Linked DNA regions of Homo sapiens. The protein of the gene in region 1 interacts with the protein of each later gene in a pairwise test. Each region holds a gene or a part of one and is shown in the gene's direction. Other genes may lie near its edges.

Region 1 (3,500 bases):
CATACACTTGAATAATTGTTCTTATGGCTGGATGCGTCACTCTTCCTAACTGCTTCTTACTATTTCATCCTCCTTTTAATAGGGGGTTGACCCAGGTCTTGGGCCTTGGGCCTGTTCATTATCCACATTCATTTTTTTGGTGACATCATTCAGGCCCGTGGCTTTAAATATTAATATCATCTACACACTGATGAGTTTATATTTCCAGTTTGGACTTGTCTTCTAAACTCTAGACATTGTATACAACTTCTTACTCCATACTAGTTGGCATCTTCAACATAACAGGTCCAAATTCAAACTTCCGCACACTCCTTCCCACCTCAAAACCACTCTTCCCACAGCCAGCCCCACCTCAATTAAAGGCAGCTCCATCTTCCATTTGTTCAAGGCAGAAATCTCTCAGTCATCCTTGAGTATTTTTTTCTCATACTCCAATCCAATAATGTCAGGAGCTCTACCTTCAGAGTATCGTGTGTGCCACATCTTAGCACCTCCACTGCCACCAGCCCCTCTGCTCATCTCTTCCTTGCAGTAGCCTTCTAACTGGTCTCTGCTGCCAGTCTTGTCTCTGGAGTCTGTTCTCAGATCCGCCACCAGGGAGGCTCTGTCAAGGCATTTAAGTCAAATACTTTTCTCAGAACTCCACAGTGGCTTCTCACGTCACCAGGAATAAAAGCCAAAGATTGTAAAACGGCCACAGGCTTCGTAAGACATGGAGCCTGTGTGACTTGATGTTGGGCCCAACCCTGTTTCTTTTCTGGCTTCATTTCTTGCTCCTTTTCTTTCAGACACTGGTCTTTTCACCATTCCTCAGGCCTGCCAGGCACCATCACTATCCTTGGGTCTTTACCCAAATGTTACTTTATGACCCTCATATGTACAATTGCATCTCAAGTTTGTATTCTCCACATTTCTCTGCTGCTTTCTCTCTTTCCATAATACCATCTGACATAGGTGTATCATTGTCAGCCTTCCTTCCTAGATGGAAGGCAGGGATTTTTGTCTGTTTTGTTTACTGGTATATCTCCAGAATTTAGAATGTCTGCCGCATAGAAAGTCGTCAGTAAACATTTACAGAATTCATTTTATTATGAAAGAAATTTTAATTTTGCTCTTAGGTTCATCTCTAACAAGTATTTAGTGAAACGACAGAGCAGAGACTATGATGTGGAATGGGGCTATGCTTTTGATGTGCATCTCAATGCTTTTTATCCACTCCTGGTCATTTTGCATTTTATCCAGCTTTTTTTCATCAACCGTAAGTAGCAGTTAATTAGAGTATTATCCAAGTCTTCATTGCATGCATTGGTAAAGGGACTCATGGTCTGCGTCTCTTCTGGCAGATGTTATCCTGACAGACACATTTATTGGATATTTAGTTGGAAATACCTTATGGTTGGTTGCAGTTGGCTATTATATCTATGTAACTTTCCTGGGATACAGTGGTAAGTAATTTTTTTAAATGTTTTTGGTTGAGAACATAGCAAGAGGGGGAAAGTTGTAACAGTAGTACAAACAGCTGCTTTTATGGAACACTTACAGGCACTATCCTAAGTATTTTATGTGCATTATCTCATTTAATCTTCATGACAATTACACAGGTTTGTTTCTGTTTTCAAATGAGGAAACTGAGGCAGAGAGATTAAGCAACTTACCCATGGTCATGCAGCTAGAAAATGGCCTAGCTGGTATATAACAGATTTTATACTTTCAAGGAAACATGTTAAACCATACTGGTTATCTCCAGATGACTTGCAGGAATCCAAGACCATTCACTCCTCTTCTCCCATGCTTTCAGGTTGTGGGTTACCAGCAGGAGGGTAGAGCGAAGAAAGGTGGGGCCCAGCATCTTGTTACATAGGTCTATGAACTGAAGTTCTCTAAAGCCTTTTGAATCATAACTTTTTGCCCCATTCTTAGTTTTCATGATTACCGTATGGTTCTGTAGACAATCACAGAAGATCGGGCCCAACATTTATTGTCCTCAGGACATGTTTGCAGATTTACTGTTAAATCCTGTTGTCAGTTCATTTTTCTTAATATGAATGAGGAACATATATTATTTTTCATTTATGTTAAGAAATGATCCCATTAAATAAAGCCAAATAAAATCTAGAGACTGCGCTGTACGTTTCTTACCCCTTCCTTTCCTGTTACTGTAGATGATTAGGGCCTAACTGTAAATACAGATGGCTCTGACTATGCCTGGCTCCGGAGTTATTCCCACCCCGGTTCTCTCCCCCCTTGGCTGGTTTGTCAGGGAACACTTAACCCCTTCATTGTAATGCCTTGTTTGGGGAGTGCTTTCTCTAGTCCAGGGGAGATGTTTGTGTCATTTCTAATGAATTTTGAAAGTGTTTTGTGATGAGAACACTGCAGCACTGTGGTTTCTCTAAGTGGTTATTTGAACACTCCTGGTAACGACCTATACCACTTAGAATAGTTGGAGTACAGCTCAGTTTGTTTAAGAACTTCCTATATGAGAAATACTTAGGTCGGGATGCATGGGGTAGGGTCCCGCTAACTAAGCAGTGAGCAAGAAACATCAATATTTGGAGCCAGACTTTTATATTTAAGAGTTTCAGTTCTTTTCTGAAGCCTGGGCTACTAGTTGAGCTCACACCCTCTTAAAGTGGGGGTATAATGCTTTACACTGGAAAATCTCAAATAGCTAAAAGATGTTTTCCTATAACGCCATCCATCTCTGTACTTTAAGTTGGACTCCTAGAGGTTTCTGAGGCAGTCACAAGTTTAAATTCACCACTGTTTTCATGAATATTTGTGACATTTCTCCCTCATTGTTAACCTCTCTTGGTCCAGTGTATGATGTCCCACTCAGCCTCTGTGCTGAAATAATTCCTCTCCTAGGTTTCTTCCCAGCCCTAGACAAGGAGGAAACAGCACAGAGGGGTTGGGAAGAGTAGTCTAGTTCTGGGCATAAATAGCATCATCTTACTGATTCAAAATATGCATTCCCTTCCACCCCACATGTTGAAGTAAGCTGTCTTTCAAAATGTTCATTTATTAGTCATTTATTTTTTTTTTTTTTTAAATCAGTTTGGATTCCTTTCTTTTCCAGCATTGCCATTTTTGAAAAATACAGTAATTCTTCTGTATCCATTTGCACCTCTGATTCTGCTCTACGGGCTTTCCCTGGCACTGGGATGGAACTTCACCCATACTCTCTGTTCTTTCTATAAGTACAGAGTGAAATAAAAAGTGAGAAGAAGATTCAATCGTAACTGTGTCAACAGTATTGTGAAGTGATCATTTCTTGTAAAACTTGTAAATAAACTATCATCTTTGTAGATATCTTAAAGGTGTAAAGTTTGCAAATTTGAAGAAATATATATTAACACTGTGGTCAGGTACATTCCTTAAAACTAATTAAATGTACATTTCTATAATAAATATTTTTTAAACTAAAGCATGTGTGTTCACTCTAATATTTGCAAATGTAAGAGCTACATGTAAAATGCTAATGGCATGGGGAAAACATA
Region 2 (3,500 bases), on another chromosome or scaffold:
AAAATGGATATCATACTATAAAGTTATGCATTATAAGTAATTGACATTAAGATAATTGGTTTTTAGAATATTGTGGCTGTCTCGGAGAGTATAGTTGTGGGAGTGAGTGCAGCAAATGCAACAGGATTATCATAAGAACGTAAGCGTTTGTTTCTATTTTGAGTTAGTCTCCTGGCCTCTTCAGCCTAGTGTTGTTTACCTCACAGAGGCATCAGAGATTTTCATCAGAGAACATGGCTTCCTATTTTTATTCAACTTTGAAAGGTTAGGGGTAGTCTCAGGCATCCTAGCTCAAACTACCCTTGACCCCACTTATAGTGTTTTCTTACTCTTTTTCTTAAAGTTCATCTTTTTTTTTTTTTTTTTGGCCTAACCCACTGGTTCTGAACAGGATAGGGAAGAGGAAACATCTGTGTTTTGAAAAGCATCCCCAGGTGATGCCGACAGGCCGTGGTTTCTGAGAAACACCACCCCATTGTAGACCAGTTAACTTTTAACCGTTCACTAGCAAAAAATTGTACAAGTTCTGCCTCAAACTGAAACCATCACCATTTGTTTTATTCTTCTAAAATTTTTATTTCAGTAGCTTTTGGACTGCAAGTGGTTTTTCATTACATGGACGAATTATATAGTGGTGAATTCTGAGATTTTAGTGCACCATCACCCGAATCGTATACATTGTACCTAATGTGTACTTTTTTTATGCCAGCCTCCTTCCCATCCGCCCCCATCACCATTTATGATGAGACTTTTAGACCTGAGTTTAAGGAAAACTAAATGAAGAAATAAAGGCACTATGCATTACAAAAAAATCAGAATTTTAAGTTTATAAAGTTCCTTATTTATGGGTCACTTAGATATAGGCTTGAAACGAATAAAGGGAATATTTTTTAAAATTATGTACAAAGCCAGAATGTCAATGTATTAAATTACAGTGAAATTTAGAACTTACACAGACTAGAATAGTTACATTGGCATTACCAGTGAACCATTCCTCCCTCTAGGCTATTGATTTGTTCTTTAAAAATGTATTAATTATTGAACACCCGTATAACCATAACCTAGATTTAGCAAATGCTGCCGTAAGTGCATTGTTTATATTTTCTGCTGTATGGTTTCAAAGCAAGTGATAGATGTCATGACACTATCCTAAATACTTCAGCATTTGTTTCTTAAGAATTCCATTTTCACACCTAAGAAAATTAACAGGCGGGTGCCGTGGCTCACGCCCGTAATCCCAACACTTCAGGAGGCCAAGGCAGGTGGATCATTTGAGGTCAGGAGATCGAGACCAGCCTGGCCAACATGGTAAAACCCCATCTCTACTAAAAATACAAAAATTAGCCAGGCGGTAGTGGTGCACACCTGTAATCCCGGCTACTTGGGAGGCTGAAGCAGGAGAATCACTTGAACCTGGGAGGCGGAGGTTGCAGTGAGCCGAGATTGCCCCACTGCACTCCAGTCTGGGTGACAGAGTGAGAACCTGTCTCAAAAAAAAAAGAAAAAAGAAAATTAACAATACGTCTCTAATAGTATCTAATACCTAGTCCCTATTCAGATTTTCCCCTCATTCCCAACATTTCTTTTCAGCAAAATTATGTCTCCTTGATTTTTTTTTTCACTCAAGAATAGCTTCCCTCTTCCCTTTTCATTCCCAATGGCATTGGCTTTTTTAGACACTAACCAGGTGTCTTGTTCCATCTGGATTTGTCAGATTGTTTCCTTGTGGCATCTTCTATTGTTTCTCTGAGTCTGGCCCTTGTATCCCCTGGAAACTGGAAGCTAGACCCTGCATCAGGTTCAGGTCAAACCTTTTTGGCAAAGCTGCTTAATAGAAGGTGCCATGCACTTTGGGTAGCTTCCCATCCAGAGATGTGGCAAGGATGGCAGGTTGTTCCACTGTTGGAGATGCTGAGTCTGACGTTGGCTTAGGATGACAGACAGCTGTCTACCCTCAGCAGAGTGTGCTTTTCCCTCTCAGTCTGAAAGTAATCTGTTTGTGACCCTTTGGCATCAGCTCTCTTGCATCCTGCCTGAATCAGTAGTTTCGTTGGGGTTGGAAAAATGGTGATTTTCTTTTTTTTTTTTTGAAACAGGGTCTTGCTCTGTTGTCCAGACTGGAGTGCAGTGGTGTGATCAGAGCTCACTGCAGCCTCAACCTCCTGGGCTCAAGTGAACCTCCTTCCTCAGCCTCCCCAGTAGCTGGGAGTACAGTTGCGTGTCAACACACCTGGCTAATTTATTTTTTGTAGAGACTGGGTCTTGCTGTGTGTCCCGGGCTGGTCTCAAACTCCTGGCCTTAAGTGATCCTCTCGCCTTGGCCTCCCAAAGTGCTGGGATTACAGGTGTGAGACATCGTGCGTGGCATGATTTTCTAATTACTTTTACTTTTCTTTTGTGTTTATTAGCTGTCATTCTTCTCTACAGAAGAGCTTCTCCTCATCAACTGGGGATGATTACAGTTCTTCCTAAAAAAGGTAGGATAAATGCTCAGTTCTTTTTATTTAATTAGCAATTTTCAAAGTAAAAAATCAATATAATAGTCCCATGCAGTTGTGGCAAATTATCATTTTCATAGATTTTTGTATATTCAGTATATTGAAATGAATGACAGTGATTATGCCTTACTGTTTAAATTACACCAAAATTGACCAGTGGGAGTCTCTTCATGCTGCCAAACTGTAAATGACATGTAAACAAACAAAATCATAATACCATCATGGAAATCTGAAAGCTAAATATTTGATGAAATAAAGGAACGTTTTTTAATTGGGATAATATTGTGAATACTAAAAAGATTAAGGAGTACCTCTTAGAGATACATACTATTTCCTGAAAAAGTAGGATTTACTTTGAAAGCATTCCTGGATGGTTGGGGGGAGATAGTTGAGGGGTAAAGATGAAACCCAGCTGCTGTTTATTATCCAGTTCTTTCTGTACAAGGTTAAAAAGTTCCCTAATAAAAAGTTTTTAAATTATGAATTTATGTTGATAGCTGCAATTTAAATGTAATATTACAGGTTGTTTTAACTTTGTATTTATATTTTTATCTATAAGGGCCTGTTTTGAAGAAACGTATATTTTCAATTTTGCTGATTTAAAGCCAGTATTGAGTTAGTATTAAAGCTTAATTGCAATGAATTGCATTGTTTGCTGTATACATCAATAAAAATTGAAGTTTCTTAAAAATTTAAACTAGTGGCAAAGAACTTTAAAAGTTATATACTTCCAGTGTTTTTCTTTTTTTTTTCGTTTTTTTTGAGACAGAGTCTCGCTCTGTCGCCCAGGCTGGAGTGCAGTGGCGCAATCTCGCTCACTGCTAGCTCCGCCTCCCGGGTTCACGCCATTCTCCTGCCTCAGCCTCCCGAGTAGCCGGGACTACAGGCGCCCGCCACCACGCCCAGCTAATTTTTATTTTATTTTTTAGTAGAGACAGGGTTTCACTGTGTTAGCCAGGATGGTCTCGATCTCCTGACCTTGTGATCCGCCCACCTCAGCCT
Region 3 (3,500 bases), on another chromosome or scaffold:
GTAATCACAATTTCACATTCTTTAACAGGTATTGAAAATTTAAATTAAAATTCTGATATTTTTGAATGGCATAAAATGCCCTATCTTATCTGAAAATTGAAAAATTAATACAGAAATGTAAATGGATTGTGAATAGGTGGGATCTGGCCAAGTGTGCATTTGTCTAGGCAGTGCTGAGTTTCTGCTCATTATTTAGTAGCTTTCATTCTTCACCTGAGCCAAAATTAGGCTTAGCCAATAAAGCCAAATTTTCCTTCTGGAAGACATGGCAGTGTCTGCCTTGCAGCATGCATCCAAGACCTTATCTGTTTCTGTATCAAACATTGTCAAGATCAGGGCATGAAGAGCCGGGGCATTCCTGACTCCCCCAACAGATGGCATCTCTTCTTTATTATAGGTGACTTCTGGGGGAACAGAAAGCATACTGATGGCCTGCAAAGCATATCGGGATCTGGCCTTTGAGAAGGGGATCAAAACTCCAGAAATGTATGTATGTGTGGCTGTTTTGTCCCCTTTTGGATTTGTCTGTCTGGAGTACAGCTTTATGAAACTAAAGCAGATAATCCATTTTCCTGCTGCTTCTCTTCCTCTGGTAATTCTGGTCCCCTTTCCCCCTGTCCTAGCCCCTCTGCCCTTATCCTTTTACATTCAGTAAAATTCTAAATGGATCAGCCAGTTATTTTTAAAGATCATTCCCATCCCGCCCCACCCCCAGATCATGCATAGTATATACTACAAGCAAAAATAAGATCCTTTTTCCAAAAGTGAGAGTTTGAGGACTACATCTTTGAATCCTGTGATATTTGCAAATTATTTGGAGCCTAAAGAAACCTCTCTAGGTACTTTAGTTCTGCTTACCTTAGAAAGTTACTTAATATTATAGGCTGCCTCAGGGTACTCTCTGGGAAAACTTTAGTGTGAGGGCTGTTTTCTGGGAGGAAGAATAAAAATATCTTTTTGAGATTTACCCACATTGCCTTCCTTGGACATAAATTTGATGTTTAGTTACATTATTTTTTCCTAGACTGTCCCCTTGTACAGTATGTTTATCCTACATCTTAATATTTTTACTGCAAGTATTACTTGACAATGGGGATTTATTGCATATGGTCTCATGCTGTGGTTCATATGTAGCATAAGAGAATAAACCAGGCTGCCATTCTTTCTTCATATGTCGATCTTTGGTGCTTGGTACTTCCTCAGTAGTAGAGATTTTTCTCCTTAGAGGGAACAGATTCGTTGTATGAATGGAGTAGTTGAGGAAAGTCTAAAGCAAATACCCGTGACCTCATTTTCTCTTTCAACACTATTTGAAATACTATTTCCAAATGTGTAGGAGAAATGGGGATTTTAGTTTCTTCAGGTTTGTTGTCTTTCAGAGTTGGAAGGGGCCACTGAGCTGATGCTTGGCCGCTGTGTGAACATTTCTGCTTGAACATGTGTTGTGCCGGGAAGCCTTCTTCTCATTCTCACTGAGGTGCCTGTCTTTGGTAGGCAACCGTTAGCCAGCTCTGCCTTGTGTTGCTCTCATCCAAAGTCTCTGTCCCCCAGCTTTCCGCCTGCCAGCCTAGCTTTATGCTTTGGATCCCTCACTGTGGGATCACTTCTGAGTCCTCTTCCTATTGCCAGAATGATTTCCTAAATAGGAGGGAAGTTTCTGCAGAAAATCAGTTGGCCTCTTTTTGGGTGTGCTTAAAAAGAAAAGTAGAGCAGTCTAAACACTTAAATTTTTAATTTGGGGAAAAATAATCAGAACTTACTCCCGGTAATTTAGATTAGCTGCTAATGGTGTTTTCTATTATTTTGGCCTGAGTTACATTATTCTCCTCTTCCCTGTCATTTAGTGTGGCTCCCCAAAGTGCCCATGCTGCATTTAACAAAGCAGCCAGTTACTTTGGGATGAAGATTGTGCGGGTCCCATTGACGAAGATGATGGAGGTGGATGTGCGGGTGAGTCCCTCTGGAGGGCCCACTGTCTGTGCTGGGCCCTGACAGCAGAAGGGCCCTCCTGTTGACTAGCCGTTTCCAGTCAGATGGGTCTGACTGCCTTTGATTGTGGCAGCCAGAATATGAAAAACTGCATTGATAGTGGTGATTGACTGCAGCTTCAGTCTTTTCATAGGTTCATGAATTCTGAAAGGGAGGTGATCTAGTCACTAACTTGGGACTTGAGAGACACTGGTTTTGCGGTCAGCGCCATCACTTTTTCTTTCTTTTCTCTATTTGTAAAATGAACATGGACTCACTTCCCCTAAGACTCTTACCATGGCCCGGGCATGGTGGCTCACATCTGTAATCCCAGCACTTTGGGAAGCCGAGGAGGGAGGATTACTTGAACCCTTGAGCCCAGGAGTTTGCGACCAGTCTGAGCAACATAGTGAGACCCCATCTCTACACAAAATTTAAAAAAGTAGCTGGACATGGTGGCATGCACCTGTAGTCCTAGCTACTCGGGAGGCTGGGGTGGGAGGATCACTTGAGCCCCAGGAGGTTGATGCTGCAGTGAGCTGTGTTCACACCACTGTACTCCAGCTTGGGTGACAGAGCAAGACCCTGTCTCAAAAAAAAAAAAAAGACTCTCACTGTGGTTTAGATTGGCTTAAATTAATACCATTGTCATTATGATAGTGATTATTTTTATGCCTCACATTTGTGTAGAGGAGTTTTCTAGTTTCAGTGTTCTGTCAGAATCCCATTTGAGCTTTATGACATTCCAGAGAGGTTGATGAAGCTGTTATATTATTGTAGTTCACAGATAAGGAACAGACTGAAGTAGCATACTCAGGGTTTCACTGCTGGTACGTTGTGGGGCTGGGGCTCACATTTGGCTCTTTGGCCTCTTAGCTCAATATTATTTTCGCCCCCACAGCGATTCTGTTCTTATTTTGTGCTCTCAGACTATTCTCCAAATGGACTTACCTGGAGTCACCTGTGTCCTGTCACCGTGGTGGGATGCAGTCTTCTCCCAGTTGGAGTGGTGAAGGAGGGGGTACTGGTGGAACTGGAACTCTAAGCTAGCAGCCCAAATTGCTCTTGGCAGCAGAAGAGAAGAGTAATTGTGACATAGATTCTCATTTTCCTTTAAACTTTAAATCCCTAGGCAATGAGAAGAGCTATCTCCAGGAACACTGCCATGCTCGTCTGTTCTACCCCACAGTTTCCTCATGGTGTAATAGATCCTGTCCCTGAAGTGGCCAAGGTATATGAGAGAAATGGGCTGCTAAGGCAGGCAAATGGATATTTTAAAACAAAGCCTAATGGGGCAGTACTTGGCAAATAGAAGCGATTTTTTTTTTGTTTTTGACCACAGTAGTGATAAGTAGCTCTCATCAGCCCTAGGGGAAGCCCTGCAGCTCAGTTGCAAGCCTTTAAAAGTTGCTAGTCTCTGCTGTGGGGGAAGATAGTACAAGGCTGAGGCCTTTTAAACTGGAAATTCTGAAATAGGATTGCCTTCTAGATTGAGATCTGGAAATAATCTGCATGTAGGAATGTGCCCACCA
Region 4 (3,500 bases), on another chromosome or scaffold:
TCACCATGTTGGCCAGGCTGGTCTCAAACTCCTGACCTCAGGTGTCCTACCTGCCTTGGCCTCCTAAAATGCTGGGATTACAGGAGTGAGCCACCATGCCCGGCCAAAAAAATAAGTTTTTAAAGAATTAAAGGTCATCCTGGCTAACACAGTGAAACCCCGTCTCTACTAAAAAACACAAAAAAATTAGCCGGGCGTGGTGGCGGGCGCCTGTAGTCCCAGCTGCGCGGGAGGCTGAGGCAGGAGAATGGCGTGAACCCGGGAGGCGGAGCTTGCAGTGAGCCGAGATCGCGCCACTGCACTCCAGCCTGGGCGACAGAGCGAGACTCCGTCTCAAAAAAAAAAAAAAAAAAAAAAAAAAAAAGAATTAAAGGTGTTAATTTTATTTAGAAGCCTTACTGAAGACTACAGTCGGAGGCCTATAGCCTGAGAGCAGCCCTTTAGAGAGGTTCAGTTGAACTGTTCTGATAGTGGGGGCCATGTGCTCTATCCTGTATTGTCTTCAAAGCATCTTTCCAGAGAGCTGCACATTGTCACAGAGTCAGGGACTTTGTGAAATTATGCTGACAACCAGAAGTGAGTAAACGTGGCTTCTTACATTTGCTACGTTGTCTCACAGTACTTAATAAGTATGCAATATGTAAGTAAATACTATAGTACTATTGCAACTCCTGATTGTTTTCTTAGACAAGGAATTGGGCCCAATAAAAACCCTCTTGGTAGGCATTCAGGCTTCGTGTACCATGAGCTTTCCTAAGGGTATCCTGCCACTCTTGGGGAAGGCATGATAGATGAGGGGAGTAAGGATAATGGAACTCTGGGTACAGGGTTCCTGGGGGCTAACTTAGAGGTAGACACAGGCAATGCTAAATATTTGGGATTGATTTTATAGAGGTTGCTAGATTGTGAATTTCCTTAGTAAGGGCTAAGGCATTGATATGTAATGTCACACTTGGCTCCGAGGCTGGGTTGTTGGATCCATGTAGATGAAATCAGGGAGAGAAAGGGCAGAACGGAGTAATTTAGAAATGTATTGATTTGTATTACTCTCTGTTGGCTTGCTATTCAAGGCAGTGGAGAACTCAATCACATAATAATCTGCAGCAAACCACAGATCATCCCAGGGAATGAAGTTTTAACATTCGCTGGCTCCCTAACTCCTCACCCAGCCTTTACATTCACTGGCTGTTCAGTCCATGCCTGGACATCTTAATTTGAATACAACATTTTAAATCCATTTTTCTGTCATCATCTTGCACTAACAGACAATTCTACACTAAGCCTATGTTTATGAATATTTCTCAAGAGTACATGTACACAGCCTTCAGTATAAGGAAAACTGGAAGTATGACATACCTCCAGTTGTCATACTCCTTGGGCCCCTCTTAAATTCTCATTAAACTGCAGGATAGGCAAGTCAGAGGTGAATCTCAAATACGAAATTCTTACCGGAAAGGGGTTCCAATCCAGACCCCAAGAGAGGGTTCTTAGATTTCTCGCAAGAAATAATTCGGGGCAAGGCCACAGTGCAAAGCAAAAGCAAGTTTATTAGGAAAGTAAAGGAGTAGAGAACAGCTACTCCATGGAGAAGAATGGCTTGAGCTGCTCCACCAAGGGTATTTAGAGTTACTTCTTGATTATATGCTAAACAAGGGGTGGATTATTCATGAGTTTTCCGGGAAAAGGGTGAGCAATTCCCAGAACTGAGATTTCCTCCCCTTTTTAGGCCATATAGGGTAACTTCCTGCCATTGCCATGGTATTTGTAAACTGTCATAGTGCTGGTGGAAGTGTCTCTTAGCTTGCTAATGTATTATAGTTAGCTTATAATGAGCAGTGAGGACAACCAGAGGTCACTTTCATCACCATCTTGGTTTTGGTGGGTTTTGGCCGGCTTCTTTACTGCACCCTATTTTATCAACAAGGTCTTTATGACCTGAATCTTGTGCCAACCTCCTATCTCATCCTGTGACAAAGAATGCCTTAACTTCCTGGGAATGCAGCCCAGTAGGTGTCAGCCTTATTTTACCCAGACCCTATTCAAGATGGAGTTGCTCTGATTTAAACGCCTCTGACAAAATGACGACCTCAAAACAATCCAGCTTTATGGAATACCTCCACAAGAAAGAAAGTATACTTAGCTATAGAATTTTCTCCTTGCATCCAACAGGCTTTGAGATGTCAGATGTTTCCTTCCTGTCCCATGATTAATCCTAGCCATTCCTCTTTCTTGTCTGGCTCCACTACTCCTTACCATCTAATGCCTCGCCACCATTTTGATATTTTGACTAAGTGAGCTATGAAACACACCTACTGGATATGAAAGTATAAGTTTCTGATAACAAAACATCAACATGGGATGTGGAGGAAGTGGGTAGGGTGGCATTAATGCAGCAAATCCTGGAATATTTTAAATCTTCATTCTAAATTTAGTAAAAATATAGGATAATTTTCCTGCCATCATTTACTTATAAAATTAAAATTTTAGAAAATAAAAATAATATTTTCCTCTTTTTAATCACAGATTATGGCCTGTATTGGAGACAGATGAAGTCGTAAGAAGTCTGATAGATGGAATACTTACCAATAAGAAAATGATTTTTGTTCCATCGTATATCAATATCTTTCTGAGACTACAGAAGTAAGTACAGCACAGAACACCCAAATACTAAAACACCAATAGAGCTTTTTTTTTTGCTTTTTTTTTTTTTAGACAGAGTCTCACTCTGTCACCCTGGCTGGATTGCGGTGGTTGCAGTGGCATGATCTTGGCTCACTGCAACCTCCGCCTCCTGGGTTCAAGCAATTCTCATGCCTCAGACCCCCAAGTAACTGGGATTATAGGTGTGTGCTGCCACACTACACCCAGCTAATTTTTGTATTTTTTGATAGAGACAGGTTTCCCCATGTTGGCCAGGCTGGACTCGAACTCCTGACCTCAAGTTATCCTCCTGTCTCGGCCTCCCAAAGTGCTGGGATTACAGTCATGAGCCACCATGCCTGGCCCAATAGAGCTATTATTATGGAGCATCTTTCAGTTGTGAAAATTGGCATGGAAACTCTCCATCCCTGGGGAGAACAGTTATTTCCTCTGTTATTTTCCTACCCAGTCTATAAAAAGAGAGTGATTCATTTTCTCTACCAAATCTACTGTCTCTGCCCAAACTTTGCTGAAGACTATTCTAACTAAAGGAAACACAGTTTAAAAAGAATGCAATATAGTGAAGTAGTTAATAATAAAGACTCCATTTTTAAAAGTCTGCTGGAAGTTTGGTTGGGATTGCACTGAATCTATAGAGCAATTGGGGAGTATTGACATATCAACAATATTGAGTTTTCTAATCCAAGAACATAATATCTATTTTTAAAATCTTCTTCAAAATCTTTAAATCTTTAAATTGTATTTTGTAGTTTTTGGTGTTTAAGTCTTGCACATATTTTGTCAGATTTATTCCAAAGTATTTCACGGGTTCTTTTTTTTTTTTTTTTTTTTTTTTTTGA
Region 5 (3,500 bases), on another chromosome or scaffold:
TCTTGTTGCCCAGGCTGGAGTGCAATGGCGTGATAACGGCTCACCACAATCTCCGCCTCCTGGGTTCAAGTGATTCTCCTGCCTCAGCCTCCCAAGTAGTTGGGATTACAGGCATGCGCCACCATGCCAGGCTAATTTTGTATTTTTAGTAGAGACGGGGTTTCTCCATGTTGGTCAGGCTGGTCTCAAACTCCCGACCTCAGACCATCCGCCCGCCTCGGCCTCCCAAAGTGCTGGGATTACAGGCGTGAGCTACTGCCCCCAGCTGGTTTGAATTTTCTAGCTTTTTTTTTTTTTTGTTATTTTATAAATACAGCATATTCTCCTCTTTGGCTTTTAAAAAGTTCAGCATAAATTATTTTGAGATTTATCAGTGTTATGTAAATCGGTAGTTCATTCTTTTTAATTACTGAGTAGTAGTCCATTTGTGGATGAACCACGATTTGTACATTCCCTTGTTGATGGACTTTCGGCTTCTCACCAGTTTTTGGCTATTACAAATAAAGCTGCTGTGAACATCTGTGTGCCAATCTTTGTACAGAATACACTTTTTTAAAAGTAAATAGGAGTGAAATGGCTGGGTCATATGGTAGATGTATTTAACTTTTTAAGAAACTGTTGGCTGGGCATGGTGGCTCATGCGTGTAATCCCAGCACTTTGGGAGGCCGAGGCAGGAGGATTGCCTGAGCCCAGGGATTTGAGACCAGCCTGGGCAACATGGTAAGACTCCGTCTTTAAAAAAATAATAAAATAAAATAAATTGCCAAACTAATTATTTTAAAAGTAATTGTACAGTTGTACATTGCAGCTAGCACTGTATGATAATTCTAGTTCATCCATATCCTTACCAACACCTGGCCAATTTTAGCCCTTCCAATTGGTCTTTAGTGATGTCTCATTGTTCTTTTAATTTGTGCTTCCCTATGGCTAGTGGCATTCAGTATCTTTCCATAAGTTTTTTTTTTTTTCCTCCTCCGGCAGAGTCTCACTTTGGTTGCCCAGGCTGGAGTGCGGTGGCGTGATCTTGGCTCATTGCAGCCTTGACCTCCTGGGCGCAGGTAATTCTCCCACCTCAGCCTCTCGAGTAACTGGGACTACAGGCATATGCCACCATACCCAGCTAATTTTTTAATTTTTTATAGAGATGGGGTCTTACTATGTTGCCCAGACTGGTCTTGAACTCCTGGATTCAAGTCGTCCACCTGCCTCAGCCTCGCAAAGTGCTGGGATTACAGGTGTGAGCCATGTGCCCAACTTCCCTAAACTTATATGTCTTCTGTATATCCCTTTTGGCAAAGTGTCTGTTCTTGTCTTTTGCCTATTTTTTGTTGTTGTTGTTGGTTGGTTGTTTTCTTGTAATTGAGTTTTGAGAATTCGTTACATATTTGGGATGCAAGTCCCTCGTCAAATGATTTGCAAATACATTCTCTCTAGGCCGTGGTCCATCTTTTCATTCTCTCAGCAGTGTCTTGAAGAACAGGAATTTTAAATTTTGATGAAATTTATCAATTTGCTCTTTTATAGATCAGGGTTTTGGTTTCATATTTAAGAAATTGTTGCCTAATCCCAAATCATAGGAATTTCCTTCTATTTTTTCTTTTTTTTTTAGACGGAGTCTCTTTCTTTGTCGCCCAGGCTGGAGTGTAGTGGCACAATCTCTGCCCACTGCAATCTCCAGCTCACTGCAATCTCTGCCTCCCGGGTTCCAGCGATTCTCCTGCCTCAGCCTCCCGAGTAGCTGGGACTACAGGCATCCGCCACCACGCCTGGCTAATTTTTTGTATTTTTAGTAGAGTTGCAGTTTTAGTAGAGGCGGGGTTTCACCGCGCTAGCCAGGATGGTCTCAATCTCCTGACCTCGTGATCCACCTGCCTCGGCCTCCCAAAGTCTGGGATTACAGGCGTGAGTCATTGTGCTTGGCCTTCCTTCTATGTTTATGGAAGCTTTATAGTTTTAGATTTTACAATTGGGTTTGTGTTTAATTTTGATTACATTTTTATATGGTGCAAAATAAGGATGGAAATTATTTGTTTATGAACAGTTGTTCATTTGCTGAAAAATATGTTTTTATTCATTGAATAGCTTTTACATCTTTTTTTTTTTTTTTTTTTGAGATGGCGTCTTGTCCCATCGCCCATGCTAGAGTGCAGTGGCGCAATCTCGGCTCACTGCAACCTCCACTTCCCAGGTTCAAGCGATTCTCCTGCCTCAGCCTCCTGAGTAGCTGGGATTACAGGCGCACGCCACCACACCTGGCTAATTTTTGTATTTTTAATAGAGACAGGGTTTTACCATGTTGGCCAGGCTGGTCTCGAACTCCTGACCTCGTTATCCACCCATCTTGGCCTCCCAGAGTGCTGGGATTATGGGTGTGAGCCACCATGCCTGGTCTACTTTTGCATCTTTGTCAAAAATCAATTGTCCATATATTAGTCAGTCTCTGAACTCTTTATTCTGTTCCTTTGATCTATTTGTCTTTACATCAGTACCCTGCAGTCTTGATTACTGGAGGTTCATAAGACTTGAAAACTAACAGTCCCCCAATCTTGTTATTTTTTAAAGTCGTTTTAGTGATTCTGGGTCTTTGCATTTTAGAATTAGCCTGGCAATTTCCACAAGAAAGCCTTTTGGGATTGTTATTGGTATTCTTTTGCCGTGAAGATCTGTTTGGAAAGAATTGATCAAGTCTTCTGATGCATGAATGTAGTATCTCTCCATTTATTTTAGATCTGTAATTTCTTTCAGCTGAGTTTTGTAGTTTTCAGTTGACATGTCTTTCCCATCTTTTGTCAGATTATTCCGTTTCATATTTCTTGACGTTATTGTAAATGGTATCATTACATAAATGTAATTTTTTAAAATTTAAATTCACAATTGTTTGTTGCCAGCATATAGAAATACGGTTGATTTTTAAAAAATTGTTTAATTGTGGTAAAATACACATAGCAAAGAAGTTACCATCTTAACCATTCTTAAGTGTAGACTTCAGTAGTGTAAGTATATTCACATTGTTCTGCAGCCAATTTCCAGAACTACTTCTTCTTTCAAAACAAATTCTATACCCATGAAACAACAACTCCATTTTTTGCCATCCTCCCATTCCCTGACAACCACCATTCTCCTTTGTTTCTATGTGTTTGACTTACTTTAGATACCTCATATATATGGAATCATACCATATTCATCCTTATCTTTTTGTGATTGACTTATTTCATCTTGCATAATGTCCTCAAGGTTTGTCCATGTGTGCCGTGTGTCAAATTTTCCTTTTTTTTTTTTTTTTTGGACACATGGTCTCTCTCTCTGTTGCTCAGGCTGGAGTGCAGTGGCATGATCACGGCTCAGTGGAGCCTCGACCTCCCCAGGCTCAGGCGATCCTCCCACCTCAGCCTCCCAAGTAGCTGAGAGTACAGGCGCGCACGAGCAGGCCCAGCTAATTTTTGTATTTTTTGTAGAGTTGCAGTTTTGTCATGTTACCCAGGGTGGTCTCAAACTCCTG
Region 6 (3,500 bases), on another chromosome or scaffold:
AAAAAAAAAAGAAAGAAAGAAAGAAAGAAAGAAAGAAAGAAAGAAAGAAAGAAAGAAAGAAAGAAAGAAAGAAAGAAAGAAAGAAAGAAAGAAAGAAAAGAGGTGTCCATTTATTGATGCAACTCAGGACAGCTCCCACTGTCTTGTCTTTTCTTTTCTTTTCTTTTCTTTTCTTTTTTTTTTTTTTGAGACAGGGTCTTAGACTCTGTCATCAGACTGGAGTGCAGTGGTACAATCATGGCTCACTGAAGTCTTGGCCTTCTGGGGTCAAGTGATCCTCTCACCTCAGCCTTCTGAGCAGCGCAGCTGGGACTATAGGCATGCGCCATCATACCCAGCTAATTTTTTATTTTTTATTACAGAGATGAGGTCTCACTATGTTGCCCAGGCTGGTCTTGAACTCCTGGGCTCAAGCAATCCTCCCACCTAGGGTTTCCAAAGTGCTGGGATTACAGGTGTGGGCCACTTACGCCTGGCCTCCCACTATCTTTGTTTGAGAACTTTTGATATATACAAGAGGTCCATTCTTCCGTAAGGATGTATTTATGTCCTCAGCTGCAGACAAAGGATTCTGACCACTGGTGGTGTTGGAGCCTGTGGAGCTCAGTGGCCAACTTTGACCTTTGAACTTTAAAGAAGTTCTTAGTCCTTCAGTAGAGAACCTGGAAATAGAACTTCAAATTGTTCAGGTCTATCTGACATGTCTTGGTGGAAAACTGAAGGTCCTTTGCATTTAAGGCTTTGGAGACAGAACGGAGACTGAATTCATGAGACTTCATGCAAGCTTCCATGTCTCTATGTACTTTAATTTCCTTATCTATACAATGAAAATAATACTCACACATAGAGTTATTATGTAGATGAAAAGAGAAAATGTATATAAAAGCATGAGACATAACACCTAGCACATAGTGCTCAATAAATACTCATTATTATTGGAAGGCAGCAGACAAGGGTAACATTTATATTGAGGGATGGAAAATCGGGCCTTACGCTCTATTCTAGGGTCAAATCTGTTGGTATGATCTTATAGCTCACTCCGTGTCCATCTGGTTAGCTGGATAATTTTTTATTTCTTTCAGTCGGAAAGCAAGTGTATACTTTCATAGTTTTGAGGGTCAGAGTTCCTGATTTTATGGGATTTTTGAAATTAAAACAATTTATAATAACTTAATCTCCAATTGCAAAATGTTATTGACACTGCATTTTAATGTAATGTGTATATATGTAATTTCCCTGCTTTAAGGGAGGGTTCAAGACTGACCTGTTTGTCTAGACTTGCTGAATATGTCTCATTATTTTCTGTAATAGTTTGGAGATGATGATGCTATTCTTCTCAATGCAAGTGGAATCTTGTTATACTGAAGTTAGATTTTGCCAAAAATTTTCCTATACATGAAAAGTCAAGAGACTTACTTAGCCACATCCTCTGTTTATGCTACATTGGAATTTCATGGCTAAAAATACAAGGCGTGACTTTCCACTGTACTCACAGGCATTCACTGTGTGCTTTTCCACCTTTGCTGGTATTTGTAACAGTTGGCAGAGCACCAGGATAACCTCTTGCCATCCTTGACCAATATCATGATCACCATGGGCTTGAAAATTGTATAAACATGGAAGCAATCACATAGGTAATCAAGGATATAGAATCAGTCGGATATAAATCTCACTTTGCTTCCCATAATCATGAGTCTTACCTTTCTGCTGTTTGAGCCAAAGCCATTCAGTAGAGAAATGTTGTGCTGGTTCTCCAGAAGTTCAAGAGTAAAGTGATATAATATGGAATTCCATTCAGGACTTAGTAATATGGAGAGTCAAGGAATGTAGCACTATCATAGACTAAGAATTTGGAAAAAACTTTCTAAACAGCCTCTTTGTGGATACAGAGGTTTGAGAGCTGTGGCAAACTGCTTTTTTTCTTTTAAATTGCCTACTAGTCAGGAAGAAATCTTTGCTTAAAGTAAGCATTCTTAATAGGATAAAATAATTTTGGGTTTCATATGGAATAAAATATAAGCAAGAACTGCTAAGACAAGTTTGAAAAGGGAAATTTATGTGGAGGTATTTGCCCTACCATATATGAGAACACTGTAATTAGTCTAGTATTTGTTCAGGAAAAAAGAAAGTTATTTATCAATGAGCTAGAAGAGAATTTCCAGAAAATATTTTGTGTACACTTGGGCATTTAATAAATGATAAAGGTGACACTTCAGTATAGTGGAAAATGGTTTATTTTAGTAGATTATATTGACACACTTGCATCTCAATATATTAATAGAAAAAATGGATTAGTCTCATACCTGTTACCATGCAAAATATAAATTTTAAGTCAGTTGAAAATATAAGCATAAAAGTAAAAAGTAGAAGACAATATTTGAATGCCCTCGGATCAGGGTAGGTCTTTAAGATAAGAAACTCAGAAGCCATTAAAAAAACAGCTCTGACTATATAAATGTTAATTATGGCAAGTCATAAGCAAAGTCAAAGATATACACCATGCTTGGAAAAAATACTTGTATTATTCATGGTAATATGAGCCCTAATTTTAAAAGAACTCCTACAAGTTGAGAAGAAGTCTGACAAGCAAGATTGTTTAGAGAGGAGGACACAGAAGAAGCCACTTGACATGAAAGAAAGCACAACCTGATAGAATCCAGAGTGTCGGCTGGGTGCAGTGGCTCACGCCTGTAATCCCAACACTTTGGGAGGCCAAGGTGGGTGGATCACCTGAGGTCCGGAGTTCGAGACCAGCTTGGCCAACATGGTAAAACCCATCTCTACTAAAAATTAAAAAAAAAAAAAAAATTAGCCTGGTGTGGTGGCGGGTACCTGTAATCCCACCTATTCCAGAGGCTGGGGCAGAGAGAATTGCTTGAACCTGGGAGGCGGAGCTTGCAGTGAGTCAAGATCAGGCCACTGCACTCCAGACTGGGTGACAGAGTGAGCTCCAGCTAAAAAAAAAAAATAAAAAAAAAAAATAAGAGTGTAACAAGAGTGAGATCAATTTTTCAATGCTGGCATGACAATTAGAAGGGACTGATCACATCCGGAGTAGGCAAGATTGTGAAATGTAGCAATCTTTTTGGAAAGTAGTCTGAAAGTATATATTAAAACAAAAAACACAGACTTTTACATAGCAATTCCACCTTGGGAATTCACAGAAAGAAAAGAATCATTTCAAGTGAAGTATGTATGAGAGTGTTTATTATAACATTATTTATAATGGCAAAAAACTAAAAGCAACTGACCTATGGTTAATGAAGTGATTGAAGAAATTATGGCATATTTAGATTATGGCATATTTCGCAGTTCTTTAAAAGAATAAGTTTAAATGTATTGGTCTGAGAGGATGTCTGTGATAGATGAAGTGGGAAAAAAAGCAAACAAGTTGCAGAGTAAGGTATATTATAAGGTTCCTTTTTTTATTTTTAGAGACAGGGCCTCCTTCTGTCCCCAAAGCTGGAGTGTTGTGGTGTGAGCATAGCTCACTGCAGCCT
Region 7 (3,500 bases), on another chromosome or scaffold:
ATCCTCCCACCTCAGCCTCCTGAGTAGAAGGGACCACAGGCATGTGCCACTACACCTGGCTAACTTTTAAAAAATTTTTTTGTAGAGATGGGGTTGCCCAGGCAGGTCTCAAACTGCTGGGCTCAAGCAATCCTCCTGCATTGGCCTCCCAAAGTGCTGGAATTATGGGCATAAGCCACTACGCCTGACCTCTCCAAGGGCATTCTTTACCCAGAAGAGGAACTTGGCAGAACTTATCCTCCAATTGGTGAGGAATATGGAGAAAATGACTTTAAGCAAAGGAACTTCTGGTTCTGCCTACCTAATCCAGAAAAAGAAGTTTTATTTCTCCCTTCCCCTAGTAACTATCTTCCCATATTCACATAAAAAAGTACAGAATCAACATTGTTCAAGAATTATAATTTTACTTGTAAGCACATGTGCACACGCACACCCATATACCTTCCTTCCCTTTAAATCATCCCACACCCTAATAGTAGTAAAATCATTGACCCGAGCATACCTGGGAGAGGAAGAGGAGTCTGACAGGGGCAGGTTCTAAGTGGCACTCCTGGAACTTAACCCTGGTGTATATGAACTTTACCTATTGAAGGATGACTCCTCAACTGTTCTCACAATTTGCTGCTCTGCTTTCTTTTCTAATTTCTGAAGGTGACTCATCTTCCCCAAGGACTTTCAGACTTCTCAGAAGAAAAAAATATTGGGTGGGTCTCTGCCACTGGCAAAAGATTAGACTTTGAGAATCATAAAAGTATATCAGTATATACTCATTAATATTGAATTACTATAATTAATATTATGATATTGATATAATGATAGAATGATATTGATAAAAGCAATATTCAATAATGAATATTATTTCAGCTGCCCACTTATTGGGTGCCTCATAGGTGCCAGGCATTTTGTATGTATTATCTACAACCCTTACATGGGACATATTATGATGCTGTTTCTCTTGAAGAAATATGGAAACTGGAAACAGAGAGGTCACCACAATTTTCCAAAGTCACATAGCTAATAGGTAGCAGACTTGGGATTCAAATTCATATGCATATGGTAAATCATGCTCTTCCTCTGCTACATTTTGCCCCCTTAGAATATGAAAAAGGGATACAAAGAGATGAAGAAAATATGTAAGATTATCCTTCAATTTCACTATCTTTTTTAAAGTTTTTTTTATTATACTTTAAATTCTGAAATACATGTGCAGAACATGCAGGTTTGTTACATAGGTATACACGTGCCATGATGGTTTGTTGCACCCATCAACCTGTCATCTACATTAGGTATTTTTCCTAATGCTATCCCTCCCCTAGTCCCCCACCCACCGACAAGCCCCGGTGTGTGATATTCCCCTCCCTGTGTCCATGTGTTCTCATTGTTCAACTCCCACTTATGAGTGAGAACATGCGGTGTTTGGTTTTCTGTTCCTGCGTCAGTTTGCTGAGAATGATGGTTTCCAGCTTCATTCATGTTCCTGCAAAAGGCATGAACTCATTTTATGGCTGCATACCATTCTATGGTATACATGTGCCACATTTTCTTAATCTAGTCTATCATTGATGGGCATTTGGCTTAGTTCCAAGTCCTTGCTATTGTGAACAGTGCTGCAATAAACATATGTGGGCATATGTCTTTATAGTAGAATGATTTATAATCCTTTGGGTATAGACCCAGTAATGGGATTGCTGGGTCAAATGGCATTTCTGGTTCTAGGTCCTTCAGGAATTGCCACACTGTCTTCCACAATAGCTGAACTAGTTTACACTCCCACCAACAGTGTAAAAGCGTTCCTATTTCTCCACATCCTCTCCAACATCTGTTGCTTCCTGACTTTTTAATGATTGCCATTCTAATTGGAGTGAGATGGTATCTCAGTGTGGTTTTGATTAGCATTTCTTTAATGACAAGTGATGATGAGCTTTTTTTCATGTTTGTTGGCCGTATAAATGTCTTCTTTTGAGAAGTGTCCGTTCATATCCTTTGCCCACTTTTTAACGGGGTTTTTTCTTGTAAATTTGTTTAACTTCCTTGTAGATTCTGGATATTAGTCCTTTGTCAGATGGGTAGATTGCAAAAATTTTCTTCCATTCTGCAGGTTGCCCGTTCACTCTGATAATAGTTTCTTTTGCTGCGCAGAAGTTTTTTTAGTTTAATTAGATCCCATTTGTCAATTTTGGCTTTTGTTGCCATTGCTTTTGGTGTTTAGTCATGAAGTCTTTGCCCACGCCTATGTCCTGAATGGTAATGCCTAGGTTTTCTTCTAGGATTTTTATGGTTTTAGGTCTTATGTTTAAATCTTTAATCCATCTTGAGTTAATTTTTGTATAAGGTATAAGGAAGGGGTCCAGTTTAGTTTTCTGCATATGGCTAGCCAGTTTTCCCAACACCATTTATTAAATAGGGAATCCTTTCCCCGTTGCTTGTTTTTGTCAGGTTTGTCAAAGAGCAGATGGTTGTAGATGTGTGGCATTATTTCTGAGGCCTCTGTTCTGTTTCATTGGTCTCTGTATCTGTTTTGATACAAGTACCATGCTGTTTTGGTTACTGTAGACTTGTAGTATAATTTGAAGTCAGGTAGCGTAATACCTCCAGTTTTGTTCTTTTTGCTTAGGATTGTCTTGACTATTCAGGCTCTTTTTTGGTTCCATATGAAATTTAAAGTAGTTTTTTCTAATTCTGTGAAGAAAGTCAATGGTAGCTTGATGGGAAAAGCATTGAATCTATAAGTTACTTTGGGCAGTATGGCCATTTTCATGATATTAATTCTTCCTATCCGTGAGCATGGAATGTTTTTCCATTTGTTTGTGTCCTTTCTTATTTCCTTGAGCAGTAGTTTGTAGTTCTCCTTGAAGAGGTCCATCACATCCCTTGTAAGTTGTATTCCTAGGTATTTTGTTCTCTTTGTAGCAATTGTGAATGGAAGTTCACTCATAAGTTTGCTCTCTGTTTGTCTGTTATTGGTGTATAGGAATGCTTGTGATTTTTGCACATTGATTTTGTATCCTGAGACTTTGCCGAAGTTGCTTATCAGCTTAAGGAGATTTTGGGCTGAGACGACAGGGTTTTCTAAATATACAATCATCTCATCTGCAAACAGAGACAATTTGACTTCCTCTCTTCCTATTTGAATACGCTTTATTTCTTTCTCTTGCCTGTTTGCCCTGGCCAGAACTTCCAATACTGTGTTGAATAGGAGTGTTCACCACCTATTTTAAGAATAGTATTGAAGCCTCACAAAAGCTGGTTCTCATGTAACCATCTGAGAATATTTGGCCTTATGACTTGAATTCATTCATTGCCTTTTTATTTCACATTTTAGTGATCCTGATGTCTAAATCTTAATCTTTGATCCTTGCAAGGTAAAATAGCCAAGTCAAGCCTGTTTAATAATATTGGTTGAGGAAGTCACATGCTTATGATCAATCTTTGGGTTATGTAATTATATTACCTTAATGTTGGCAGTTTAGGTGTAAGGCAGAGATATCTGATCACATGTG

What was found.
Region 2: the proteins of UNC50 (region 1) and MTIF3 interact in binary tests that used the Homo sapiens proteins (3 or more experiments, as listed by UniProt).
Region 3: the proteins of UNC50 (region 1) and SGPL1 interact in binary tests that used the Homo sapiens proteins (3 or more experiments, as listed by UniProt).
Region 4: the proteins of UNC50 (region 1) and HSD17B13 interact in binary tests that used the Homo sapiens proteins (3 or more experiments, as listed by UniProt).
Region 5: the proteins of UNC50 (region 1) and SLC71A2 interact in binary tests that used the Homo sapiens proteins (3 or more experiments, as listed by UniProt).
Region 6: the proteins of UNC50 (region 1) and SLC10A6 interact in binary tests that used the Homo sapiens proteins (3 or more experiments, as listed by UniProt).
Region 7: the proteins of UNC50 (region 1) and CLRN1 interact in binary tests that used the Homo sapiens proteins (3 or more experiments, as listed by UniProt).

Annotation. Positions count from the first base shown.
Region 1 is NC_000002.12:98,615,089-98,618,588, forward strand, and holds the end of UNC50 (protein unc-50 homolog), read left to right. Parts: intron 1-1,118; coding exon 1,119-1,258; intron 1,259-1,343; coding exon 1,344-1,445; intron 1,446-3,057; coding exon of another isoform or gene 3,058-3,079; coding exon 3,080-3,216; 3' UTR 3,217-3,427; downstream 3,428-3,500. UniProt on the Homo sapiens protein: Involved in the cell surface expression of neuronal nicotinic receptors. Binds RNA.
Region 2 is NC_000013.11:27,444,065-27,447,564, reverse strand, and holds part of MTIF3 (translation initiation factor IF-3, mitochondrial), read left to right. Parts: intron 1-2,408; 5' UTR 2,409-2,477; intron 2,478-3,500. UniProt on the Homo sapiens protein: IF-3 binds to the 28S ribosomal subunit and shifts the equilibrium between 55S ribosomes and their 39S and 28S subunits in favor of the free subunits, thus enhancing the availability of 28S subunits on which protein synthesis initiation begins.
Region 3 is NC_000010.11:70,867,948-70,871,447, forward strand, and holds part of SGPL1 (sphingosine-1-phosphate lyase 1), read left to right. Parts: intron 1-397; coding exon 398-486; intron 487-1,844; coding exon 1,845-1,950; intron 1,951-3,100; coding exon 3,101-3,199; intron 3,200-3,500. UniProt on the Homo sapiens protein: Cleaves phosphorylated sphingoid bases (PSBs), such as sphingosine-1-phosphate, into fatty aldehydes and phosphoethanolamine. Elevates stress-induced ceramide production and apoptosis.
Region 4 is NC_000004.12:87,309,383-87,312,882, reverse strand, and holds part of HSD17B13 (17-beta-hydroxysteroid dehydrogenase 13 isoform A precursor), read left to right. Parts: intron 1-2,523; coding exon 2,524-2,640; intron 2,641-3,500. UniProt on the Homo sapiens protein: Plays a pivotal role in hepatic lipid metabolism. In vitro, it catalyzes the oxidation of a variety of lipid substrates, including 17beta-estradiol, retinol, retinal, and leukotriene B4.
Region 5 is NC_000009.12:94,381,069-94,384,568, forward strand, and holds part of SLC71A2 (hippocampus abundant transcript-like protein 1), read left to right. Parts: intron 1-3,500.
Region 6 is NC_000004.12:86,839,385-86,842,884, reverse strand, and holds part of SLC10A6 (sodium-dependent organic anion transporter), read left to right. Parts: intron 1-3,500. UniProt on the Homo sapiens protein: Transports sulfoconjugated steroid hormones from the extracellular compartment into the cytosol in a sodium-dependent manner without hydrolysis.
Region 7 is NC_000003.12:150,962,728-150,966,227, reverse strand, and holds part of CLRN1 (clarin-1), read left to right. Parts: intron 1-3,500. UniProt on the Homo sapiens protein: May have a role in the excitatory ribbon synapse junctions between hair cells and cochlear ganglion cells and presumably also in analogous synapses within the retina.